2 separate regions of the Homo sapiens genome follow, and region 2 is linked to region 1. The links come from fine-mapping of genetic effects on gene expression. A gene starts in region 1. The other region holds a variant in brackets. All regions are shown on one strand. Distances are from middle to middle.

Region 1 (5,462 bases):
CCCACCTGGAATTATGCTGAATGAAAAGGTGAATCCTAGAGGTTATGTACTTTATGATTCTATTCATAAAATATCCTTGAAATGACAAAATTTTAGAAATGGAGAACAAATTAGCAGTTGCCAGGGGTTCTAGGGGAGTGAGGATGAGAGGGAAGTGGATGTGGCTATAAAAGCATACCACTTTGTGGGGTAGAGACGTTCTGTAGCTTGACTACAGATATTCTATCAGTGTCAGTATCCTGTTGTGATATTTACTGTGGTTTGTGAGAAGTTGCCATTGCAGGAAACTGAGTAAAGGGCACATAGCATCTCTCTTTATTATTTGTTACAACTGCATGCGAATCTACAATTATCTCAGAATAAGTTTAATTAAAAGAAAAAGCCAGATACAGAACAATACGATCTGTCTCTTAACTCCCAAATTCCCAGTTGGCTGGCCACACACCACAGTCTCAGTTCTGTCCATAACCAAGTTTGGGGGATCTCTTCAAGTTTGCAAATGTCACTTCTACTGAGATCCCTCTGACAACTTCAGTGAAGTCTCTCCTCAAAGCTTTTTTTTTTTTTTTTTTTTTTTGAGACAGAGCCTTGCTCTGTCGCTCAGGCTGGAGTGCAATCACTGCAACCTCTGTCTCCCGGGTTCAAGCGATTCTCCTGCCTCAGCCTCCCGAGTAGCTGGGATTACAGGTGCCCGCTACCATGCCCAGCTAATTTTTGTATTTTTAGTAGAGATGGGGTTTCACCATGTTGGTCAGGCTGGTCTCCAGCTCCTGACCTCAGATGATCCACCTGCCTGGCCTCCCAAAGGACTGGGATTACAGGCGTGAGCCACTGAGCCCGGCCTCTCCTCCAAATTTTCAAGCTGTGTATTTTAAATCATAAAATGTTAGAGCCAGGAACATTTGAAATAATGCCTTGATAAAAGCGTCCATCAGACCCCCGAGCACCCTTCCTTTCCATGAATTATAACCAACGGAAATCCGGTGCACTTAGCATGTCCAGCTTTGAGTGAAGCCCCCAAGCTTCCTGCCCCTGAGACTGCCGCCCCTAAACCTCTCTTGCATGGATTCTGTAGAGCTGCCCCGACCAGAAGTCACTTAGCCACTCCTCTGCTCCAGGCCTCGTGGCCTGCTGGAGGCCAGACAGTGGGTAAGTCACGCTCAGCAGTGCCTACAACTCAAGCCACTGCTCAAAGGCTGTTGTTTTATTTCTCAAGTTAGACCACAGGCTCTGTAGCAACTTGGGCCTCCTTGGACACACACAGTGTGACGCTGAGACACAGTCCTCAACGCTGCTATGGTGTAGAATTTTTTGCGGAGAAAGACAGGAAGGCCTCTTGAGGTCAGTGTGAGACAGGGACACTCCACTGGGGCATAGGTATATCACTCACAGGTTGAAGGTAGGTAGACTGAGGCTCAAAGAGCAAGCGGAGGAGCTAATGTTCAACCCAGGTGGTGTGGAGTCTCAGTCCAGTGGCCTTACCCTCCACGGCCACGTTGCTAGTTATACTGGACAGAGCTCAGACTGTGCCCTGGCCTGTGTAGATGCACCAGAGGTTTTATCTGGGGGTCACAGCCGCTGGGAACGGGAGAGTTGCTGGGGATTGCCAGGAAGGGACAAGGCATTTGTAGCCATGCACCATCTGCTTTTACACTACCCTAGAGTCAAGTGGACCCCCTCCAGCATTTTTTTTTCCCCGAGATGGAGTCTCACTCTGTCACCCAGGCTGAAGTGCAATGGTGTGGTATCGGCTCACTGCAACCTCTGCCTCCCGGGTTCAAGCGATTCTCCTGAGTAGCTGGGACTACAGGCGCATGCCACCACGACCGGTTAATTGCCCCTCCAGCATTGTATGTGTCTGACTGCAATGAAGTGTGAGTGTGTCTGTGTGCGACTGTGTGTGTATGATGTGAGTGTGTCTGTGTCTATGTGGGGGCCAGGTGTATAGTCTGCATATGTCTGTGCACCTCTGTGTCTCTGTGGGTTGTCTGTGCCTATGTCTCGGCTTGTGTGTGTGCATGCATGTGTGGTCTGTGTGTGTCTGTATGCATGTGGTATCTCTGGGATGTGTGTCTGTATGTCCCTGCGTGCAGTGTAGTGACTTTGGGAGTGCACATGTGTACACGTGTGGTGAGTGTGCGGCCCTGCGCGAGTTGTCTGTGTACGTGTGGTGCCTGTGGGTCTGTGTGCGCGCGTGTGCCCGTGGGTGTGGTGTGTCCTCCCGCGCTGAGGCTCCCATGAACCCAGCTCAGTTCAGGCCTCCCTGACAGTCCTCGGGCGGCCACCCCGGGGCGCGGCTGTCCACGAGGCGCGGAGGAGAGGAGTGCGTGGCTGGGTCGGCGGGCGGCGCCCCCGCTCCTCCCCGCGGGCCGGGCACACGTGGGCCCCGGGCGCCGCCTCCCCGCGCCGCCCGCCGCCCGCCGGGTCCCGCGCGTCCCCACCCACCTCGGGCCGCCCCCGCCGCCGAGCCGGCCCAGGGATAAAGTGGCGGCGCAGACGCCGCACCCTGTCGCCGCGAAGCCGGTCGCGCGCAGCTCGTCCCGGCCCTGGCCCGCCGCAAACGAGGATCCGCTGCGCTCGGGGAACGCGACAGCGGCGCTCGTGGCCCCGGTAACTGCCTCCCGGCCCCTGCCCCAGCCCGCCAGTGCCGCCGTCAGGGGTGGGGAGCAGCACTGGGGTCCCGGACACGCCCGGCGTGGGCTCCCGCTACCCATGTGTGCGTGTGTGTGTGTGCACGGTGTGTGTGCGCGCGTGTCCGAGTGTGCGCGCGTGTGCGCGCGCGCGCGCCCTCCCTGCTCCTTCGCACCAGCCCCCAAACCAACTTGTCCCCATCAACTCCATCTTTCTAGTCCCCACCTTCCCCGGTGCAGACACCCGGCGAAGCCCACCCGGTTTTCCCAGCGGCATTTCCGATGACAGCTTCGGGGCTACGTGTCCTGTGCTGTCGGAGACGCACAGGAAGCAAAGTTTGTGAGAAGCCTTGGGGGCGACTTTGCCTTGGGCACCCGCATTTGTGCGTCTGCGAGGTGCCTCGGTGTGCGCGGAGCTAGTTTCCCAGTTTCCCGGGCCCCTCCCTTCTCCGAGCCCCTCTAGCGATTTGTTTAGGAAAAGTGATGACATGAACTAGTAGTGGAGAATCGCAGCGCCGCTCCCCGCCCTGGGGAGGGAGGGGAGCCCCGGAGAGCCTGCCGGTGGGAGCTGGAAGCAGGCTCCCGGCTGAGCGCCCCAGCCCGAAAGGCAGGGTCTGGGTGCGGGAAGAGGGCTCGGAGCTGCCTTCCTGCTGCCTTGGGGCCGCCCAGATGAGGGAACAGCCCGATTTGCCTGGTTCTGATTCTCCAGGCTGTCGTGGTTGTGGAATGCAAACGCCAGCACATAATGGAAACAGGTTTGTCATGTATCCTTGGAATTTCAGATGGGAGGAATAATCTGAGTATCATCCACCTCATTATTGTGCCCACTTGAAACTGTTCCTTGGAGATTTTAAGATAGATGGGTCTTCTTGCAGCTGGGTCTTTGTACCCATAGAGCTGACTATAATTTCCACTTGATTACAGCTAAAATAGTCTTTAAGATGAAGTTTCCTGAAATGATTTAAAATAAACACAGATGGGAAGGGGGAAAAACTGTAATGAGGCACTTAAAAAATAAAGTGAGCATTTTCTTAAGAACAAATGGGATTTTTCAGTCTTGGAGAGGTTTGCAAGAAATGTATGTATGTTTTAAACCTTTGAAACAGAGGGGTTTTTTAAACTGCTTTTAAAAAAATGTTACTGACTCTGAACTAGACTTTTCTCTCCTATCCATACATGTTCTTGAGATATTTCTGACTTTGGAATATGTCACTTTTCCTTCTAGGACCTGAAGACCCTTCCAGCATGCCAGAGGAAAGTTCCCCCAGGCGGACCCCGCAGAGCATTCCCTACCAGGACCTCCCTCACCTGGTCAATGCAGACGGACAGTACCTCTTCTGCAGGTACTGGAAACCCACAGGCACACCCAAGTAAGTCTTCCCCAGAAAGTCACCCCAGGTGACAGGGGAGCATGGCCCCTGCTTCTCCTCTGGTCGTTATCATGTGCCATCTGGGGCGGGGCCGCTTTCTCTATGACCTACTTCCCCTGCCGTTTTAATGTTAGGCTGAGCAATGTTAACAAAGCTAAAATGTATACTTTATAATTTTTAAATTTAAGAAGCAGGAATTCTTTTTTCATTATAACAACTCAGATATGGATCCTACCGTATGGCAATTTTCAAAAATTCCACATGACTTTATTTTTTGTACTGGAGTTGATTTCCGGTTGTACAGGCATTCATTTAAAATCAAACCCGACAATTAAGGAAAATCCCCTAGATGGATGAGAAACCCGAAGTAATACATATATCTTCACCTTTGCTCACTTTTCCTGCTTGTTTCTGAGCTTCTGAAGATGGCATACATGTGTCACCAGGAAGAAAGGGGCCTGGGTATTTCCTTCTGATTCCTTGCCAGCTCAATTACTTTGTACATTTTCCATCAAGGATTTGTCTTGCTATTAGAAGCAAACATTGGGACTATACACAAGACAGCTGGTCTCCTGCTGCTGCTCCCTCCTCTTGGATGAAGCAGGAAAACCCTGCTTGTTTGTGTTATTTGGAAAAAGAATTTATTTGTGGTAACCAATTGGCCTGGTGACAAGAACATTTCCTGTTCCAGGGACATTTTACCTGTTTTGTAGGCCTCTTGTCTCCTAGGGATCATTGTGTGGTTGGATTATGTCTCTCTTTGTGCTCCAGTAATCACCCAACCCTCACACAGGTGTAAAATTTCTTCTCTGTCTTCATCAAGGTATCTATGATCCAGGGAGCTGCACGTTAAAAACACAGAGATATGGACTTTTAAAACCCGGCATAGAGTCATAGCTTCAGGGCAGCTACACAGACTGGCTATGGTTTCTCTCTAGTGTTTTCAAGTGGGTAACGTGCTGAGAAGAGTTCCTACCAGTTCTGGTAATACATTTCTTAAAGAATGTGTCTGTACGTGCATACGCATTAGAGGAAGTGGGGGGGTTGTTGAGCATTATGATGCTAATTAATCATTAATTCTCCACTCTGACTTAACTGGCTGTAGAATTGCTCAATCTTGGATTAATTTCTAACAGATTAGTGGTTTGTGGTAATTTGATCAATATACAGAAAGAAGACAAATAATTGAAAATAGAAGTTTTTAATGTCTGAGTCTCAGACTTGGGGGGCTTTGTTGGTTAAGTAGTGAGGTTGTCCTAGTTCGAAGTCAACAAAAATAAAGAGGTTCTGCAGTCCTGGCACAGGGGGAGGGTGGTGGGTGAGTGGGTTAGAAACGGTCAAGTTGGCTGCCCTGCCCTCCCTTCGCCTGCGGGTGGTTTTCACAATCTCTGTGCTGAAGTTGCATTGCAGGGAGCCCTCTCTGCTCCGTTGCTTTTGCTCTAGTTAGAGATGATAACTCAAC
Region 2 (5,000 bases), 110 kb after region 1:
GTGATGGGTCCCCAAAACACAAATGGTGGCACAATGAGAAATCTGGTGGTGGGCTTGGACGAAATGGTGTGGATGCTGGGTGGTCTCTTGCTTTCACCTCTGTGGCAGGCACTGCTGAGGTGCTGGGTCCCTGGGCCTTTTCTTGGCTCTGAGCCATCTGGTCAGGGAATGGGTAGGAAGCTGGCTTACATAAAACAGTCATGTCCCTGAGAAGGCTGTGTGGGCCCCAGCAGGCAGGTGGGTTGACCTGGGAGCAGCGCCTGCAAGGCTGGCACTTGCACACCATCCCGTTACACAGAGCCTTCCTGCGGTTCCTGAGTGTGGTGGGGATCCTCCCGCCACAGCTGGCAGCCCCATGTCTCCTCTGGCTGCACACAGGATCACTAGGGAACTTTAAAAAGGCACTGATGCCAGGGCTCCACTTCGGCCAATACAATCAGTCTCTCAGGGCAGCACTGGGAGGAGGTGTTTGTGGTGTTTCATGGACACACACACTGCCAGCATCAGGGAGTAGTGACAGGGTACTGAGAACAGCAGAATATCTAGAAGTGAGTTCTTCATAACTGTGGAACACAGAAGTCTTCCCTCACAGTGTGGCCCTTGCCCACTGCTGCTGGAGGAGAGCGCTAAGGCCCTGGAACACTCGTCCTTACACAGCCAGAGTCTAGTGAAGGCCACAGAGCCACAGCCCACTGCCTTTATGCACTGATCCACTCCATTTTCTCATTTTTAGATTGTTTTAACCTTTGAAAGCACAGATCCCAATGCAGACGAGCTCCCAATTCTTGGAGTTCACAGACATTTGATCCGTGTTTGAAAATACCCCAGTCCTTGTGCAGAGTTCCCAGAATTCCAAGTTTTCCTTTCCCAGGCTCGTTCTTGGAGCTGGCCCATGATACTAGCTGGACTCTTGAACATTCCTGACCCATCACGGCCACCCTTCGAGGCTTCCGATTATGCAGACACACCATGCCCCTGCACAGTGCTCAAAGTCAGGCTGCCGCATGCTTCTATACTAGACAGTCAAAGTCGGAGCCCAGGGCTCAGCAAAGCACCTGGCACAGTGGCGGCTGCAGAATGAGATCTGCTTGCCTGGATGCCAAGGCTGGAGGGCAGTAAGCTTCGGTATCCTCAGAGGCAGGGGGCTGCCACCTTTGCACTAAGAAGGAATTACTGATTTCTACCATTTGAGAAAAGGAGTGTTGACCACATGGAACTCCGAATAGGTTCATGCACATGGAACAAAGCCCTTTAGGAGAAAAGCCCGTTTTTTGCTGTCTGCCTGATACTGGATGGTTGAGAAACAATCGTGGTGGGCAGTCACGCCACACTTGTGCGGGCCTAGGACACAGGAAGGTTTAGCCCTGGCCTACAGGGAGGGTGGGCAAGCACAGCAATCTTGTCCCCCAAAAGAACATCAGTGGCCGCTGGTGCCAAGACCCACGGGAAGGTTAGAGCTCTGGGTTACATTTGTGGAGAGAGACACAGACAGCGGCAGAGACAGAGACGTAGTAATCCAGGCTGTGTGGCATAAGAAGATAAAGCGGCCCCCCAGCCCGGGGCCCCTCCCATGGACCTCATGGTACCGAGCCTCCATTTTCTCATCTGTTCAGTGAGGATGAAGCCTCATCTCCCAGGGTTTTTGCAAAGACAGGGAGACTGGCCGGGCGCCGTGGCTTACGCCTATAATCCCAGCACCTTGGGAGGCCGAGGCAGGCGGATCACAAGGTCAGGAGTTTGAGACCAGCCTAACCAACATGGTGAAACCCCGTCTCTACTAAAAATACAAAAATTAGGCAGGCGTGGTGGCACGCGCCTGTAATCCCAGCTACTCAGGAGGCTGAGGCAGGAGAATCACTTGAACCCAGGAGGCAGAGGTTGCAGTGAGCCGAGATTGCGCCACTGCACTCCAGCCTGGGTGACAGAGCAAGACTCTCAAAAAAAAAAAAAAAAAGATAGGGAAACTGTGCCCAATGCACCAGAAGGTGGTTCCTCGGTGCCTGTGAGTGCCCTTGCCCTCTGCCAAGGGTACTGAGCTACGTGCCCTGTGCCCTTGATGTACACTGAGAATTCACTGCTTGCCACCTTCCGTCCAATTCTAATTTCAGCATTTCACAGCTCACTTTTGAAATAGCATCTTTCATCCCCAAATGTCTGTGCACATTGCAGAAATGAAAACAGCCCCTCTCTGAAGGCAGAAGTGTGAGATCCGGGTTCTCTGTTTTCCTGGGAAAACAAGAGATCCAGAAGGAGAGATGGGGGAGGGGGTGGGAAGGTTTGGGCCTCAATCAGGCTCAAGTTCAATGAGCATGTGTTAAGCTCCTGCTGTGTTCCCTGGGCTTTTGCACACAGGGTGTTATTCACCTTCCCCGTGGTCCTCTGGGGGAGGGTCAAGGTCCCACTGGCAGCTGAGGAAACGGAGGCTCAGCGATGTGGAAATCCCAGCCCATGTTCACGAGGCAGCAGAGCTAGGAATCAAACCCAGCAATCCTTCCCTCTGCCACACAGCCTCCTCATCGAGCTGGTGCTATTTCTACTTCCACCCGAGAGAAATGGACGCACACTTTCTCTGTGTGGCTCCTGTGGGCCCTTCCGCACTG[C/T]CCTGCTTCGTGCTCAGTTGATCTGTGTGATTCTGCACCTGCCGTGTATTTTCAGTACCCCAGAGAAATGGCCAGAGCTCATCCCAGGCAACTCTTGCCAGTGATGCAAAATTACAACCCATGAGCGATCATGGGGAGGGTATAGAGCGGGCAAAATTCAGACGTGACTTCCCACCTTGGGCGCAGCGGCTGCCTGGCCAGCTCCCCCAAGGTGGAGCAGAGCCAGGCTGAATAGAGGCTGAGTCAGAAGGGAGAGTCCTTGGGCATGCAGGCTTAAGGACGCAGGCTTGGGAGACGAACCTGGCTGATGTTCAGTTTGGGCATCACTCTCCTTAATGTACTGTAAACTGTCACTGCGGAAGAGCCGGGTGTGGATGCCACTTGTGCTCACAGCCCTTGTTTTCCCTCCCCGGCTAGGTCCTTGCTGCGAAAGTGCTCAACCTTGTGCTGCCAAACTTGTCCCTCGGGCCCATCGACTCCAGCGTGCTCTCTCGGAATAAGACAGAGGTGAGAGGCTTTCCGAAACCCCAGGGGTAGCTTGGGTGGCTGCCCCCATGGGGAATCAGAGTTTTGGCTCCAGCCTTGGCATTCTCTGCTGCCCTTTCACCGAGGCCCTGTGCAAAGTGACAAGGACACAGTGGTGCATTAGACATGGTTGGCTTCAGGTTTGGGTGAAAAGGGTGGGTTGGCTATGATGCCTGAGCTGTGTTCTAAACATGAAAGGAGCCAACAGTGGAAGTTGAGTGTGTGCCAGTCAAGTCTCTTGGTTGCAAGAGACAGAAACCTACATCAAAGTGATTTAAGCAAAAGCAGGGATTTTGTGGTGAATGGAACTGAAGGCTTCAGACATGGCTGGATCCAGGGCGTTGAAAGTCTTATTCTCCATCGGTCTCTTCCCAGCTTTCATCTCCCCTGGTTTGGCTTCATTCCCAGACAGGCTTTCCCCCAGTGAAGGCCAAGAGGGCCACCAGCAGGTTTACCTGAGCAACCCCAGTGGAAAAACAGCACCTCTTTCCAGCAAAAGTCTCAGGGCTGATTCTTACTGACTGATTATCCAGGCCTGGATTATTTGTCCAGGAAAGGGGGGTAGTATCATCCCCACCCACTGAGAGTAGAGGAAGGGGATCCCTGGGGGTAACTCAGAATAGTGGTAGCAAAGGAAGGACAGACCCATATTGCAGATGAGCAAACTGAGCCCCATAACGTGGGATGACTTGCTTGGGGTCAGCCAGTGGTGAGGCTAGCCTGGGAACGTGGGTAGGTGTGGTCTCCAGCTGTGCTCTGTCTGGGTATGGGAGTGGGCTTGCAGTTAATGGGTAGGAAGCATCCAGAAGACACCAGCATTATCTTCATGATTAAGCAAATAAGTTTGCCACTCTTCTGCCTCAGTTGCCCTCTTGCTTTAGGAGTTTGAAATCATTGAATCACTGGCTCCCTAAATCACTGAATCACTGGCTCCCTAAAGGGCCCTGGGAAGTGGAGTGCAGTGCTCTAGCATTCTGGGGATGTTCCCAGACTTCCTTGGGCTGTTGGACTCTAGCTTCATTATAAACTGTGGCCTTCTGGCCCTCTGAGTCACTTAGAGAGTGGGCAACTCAAGAGGAATAGCCCGTGGTGTGTAGGAAAGAGACTTTCTAGATCAGGGGTTGAAAACTCCTAGGCCTCTGAGGGCCAGCTGCTTAAAAATCAGACTGGTGAGAGATTCTAGCAAGCCATGAGGCCTGTGTGGAGCCAGAGGGCATCTGATCCATCCAACCCATCCACATTAATTTAAAATTCTAATATAATTTGGTTTTTAAAGCCCACAGTGCCTCCCAAACCTACATCTTGGGGCCAGGTTGGACCCATTAGGGACCAGTGTGTGGCCCCTGGTCTTTCTGAAAGAATATCTGAATAAAGGAAAAAAACTTTAATTCCAAAAAGCAGATTCATACAGTGAAAGAGCACAACTTTAGGACCCAGAAAGACCAAAGCCAAATATACACTGTTTGATTTAATCCTGACATGAATGAGATCGACATTAACCCCATTTCACAGATGAAGAAACTGAGGCTTGGAGAGGTTAAATAACCTGTTCAAGATTGCACAACTAGTCAGGGGCAGAGATGGGATTTTAGCCCATTTTATTCAAAAGTCCATGCTTTGGTGCCTCCCTCTAGCTAGTAATTATGGTCATTAAGCTCTGTTTCCTGTTTTACAATTGATTGCTGGTCCACGCAGCCCATGGCCATGGCCATTGCTCTCTGTACGGGACCCACTTTGACAGGGAAACTCAGTGTGGGGCAGGGGCTCCTGCACCTGCCTGCATCCCTCATAATGGCTCTAGCTTGAAGGTGTGGTGTCTGGTAAAACCAGTGATCTTTGTAGCGGCAGTGCCAGGACAACAGTAGGTTTGAGAAA

Evidence for each region. PIP is the estimated chance that this variant, and not a neighbour inherited with it, causes the effect. A credible set is the group of variants that fine-mapping cannot tell apart.
Region 2: its variant is the best candidate, but not a certain one, in a credible set for the expression of MGLL in whole blood (INTERVAL, PIP 0.65).

The regions. Positions count from the first base shown.
Region 1 is chr3:127,820,232-127,825,693 of GRCh38, reverse strand. MGLL (monoglyceride lipase) reads left to right here and starts at 3,179. Exons shown (of 8, transcript NM_007283.7): 1 at 3,179-3,385; 2 at 3,856-4,000. The coding sequence starts at 3,376. RefSeq lists a silencer at 2,218-2,737.
Region 2 is chr3:127,708,683-127,713,682 of GRCh38, reverse strand. It overlaps MGLL (monoglyceride lipase), which reads left to right. Exons shown (of 8, transcript NM_007283.7): 6 at 3,018-3,107. Among named protein-coding and RNA genes, the nearest start is that of ABTB1, 38 kb to the right of the region's middle. The variant C/T (reference allele first, on the strand shown) is at 2,601.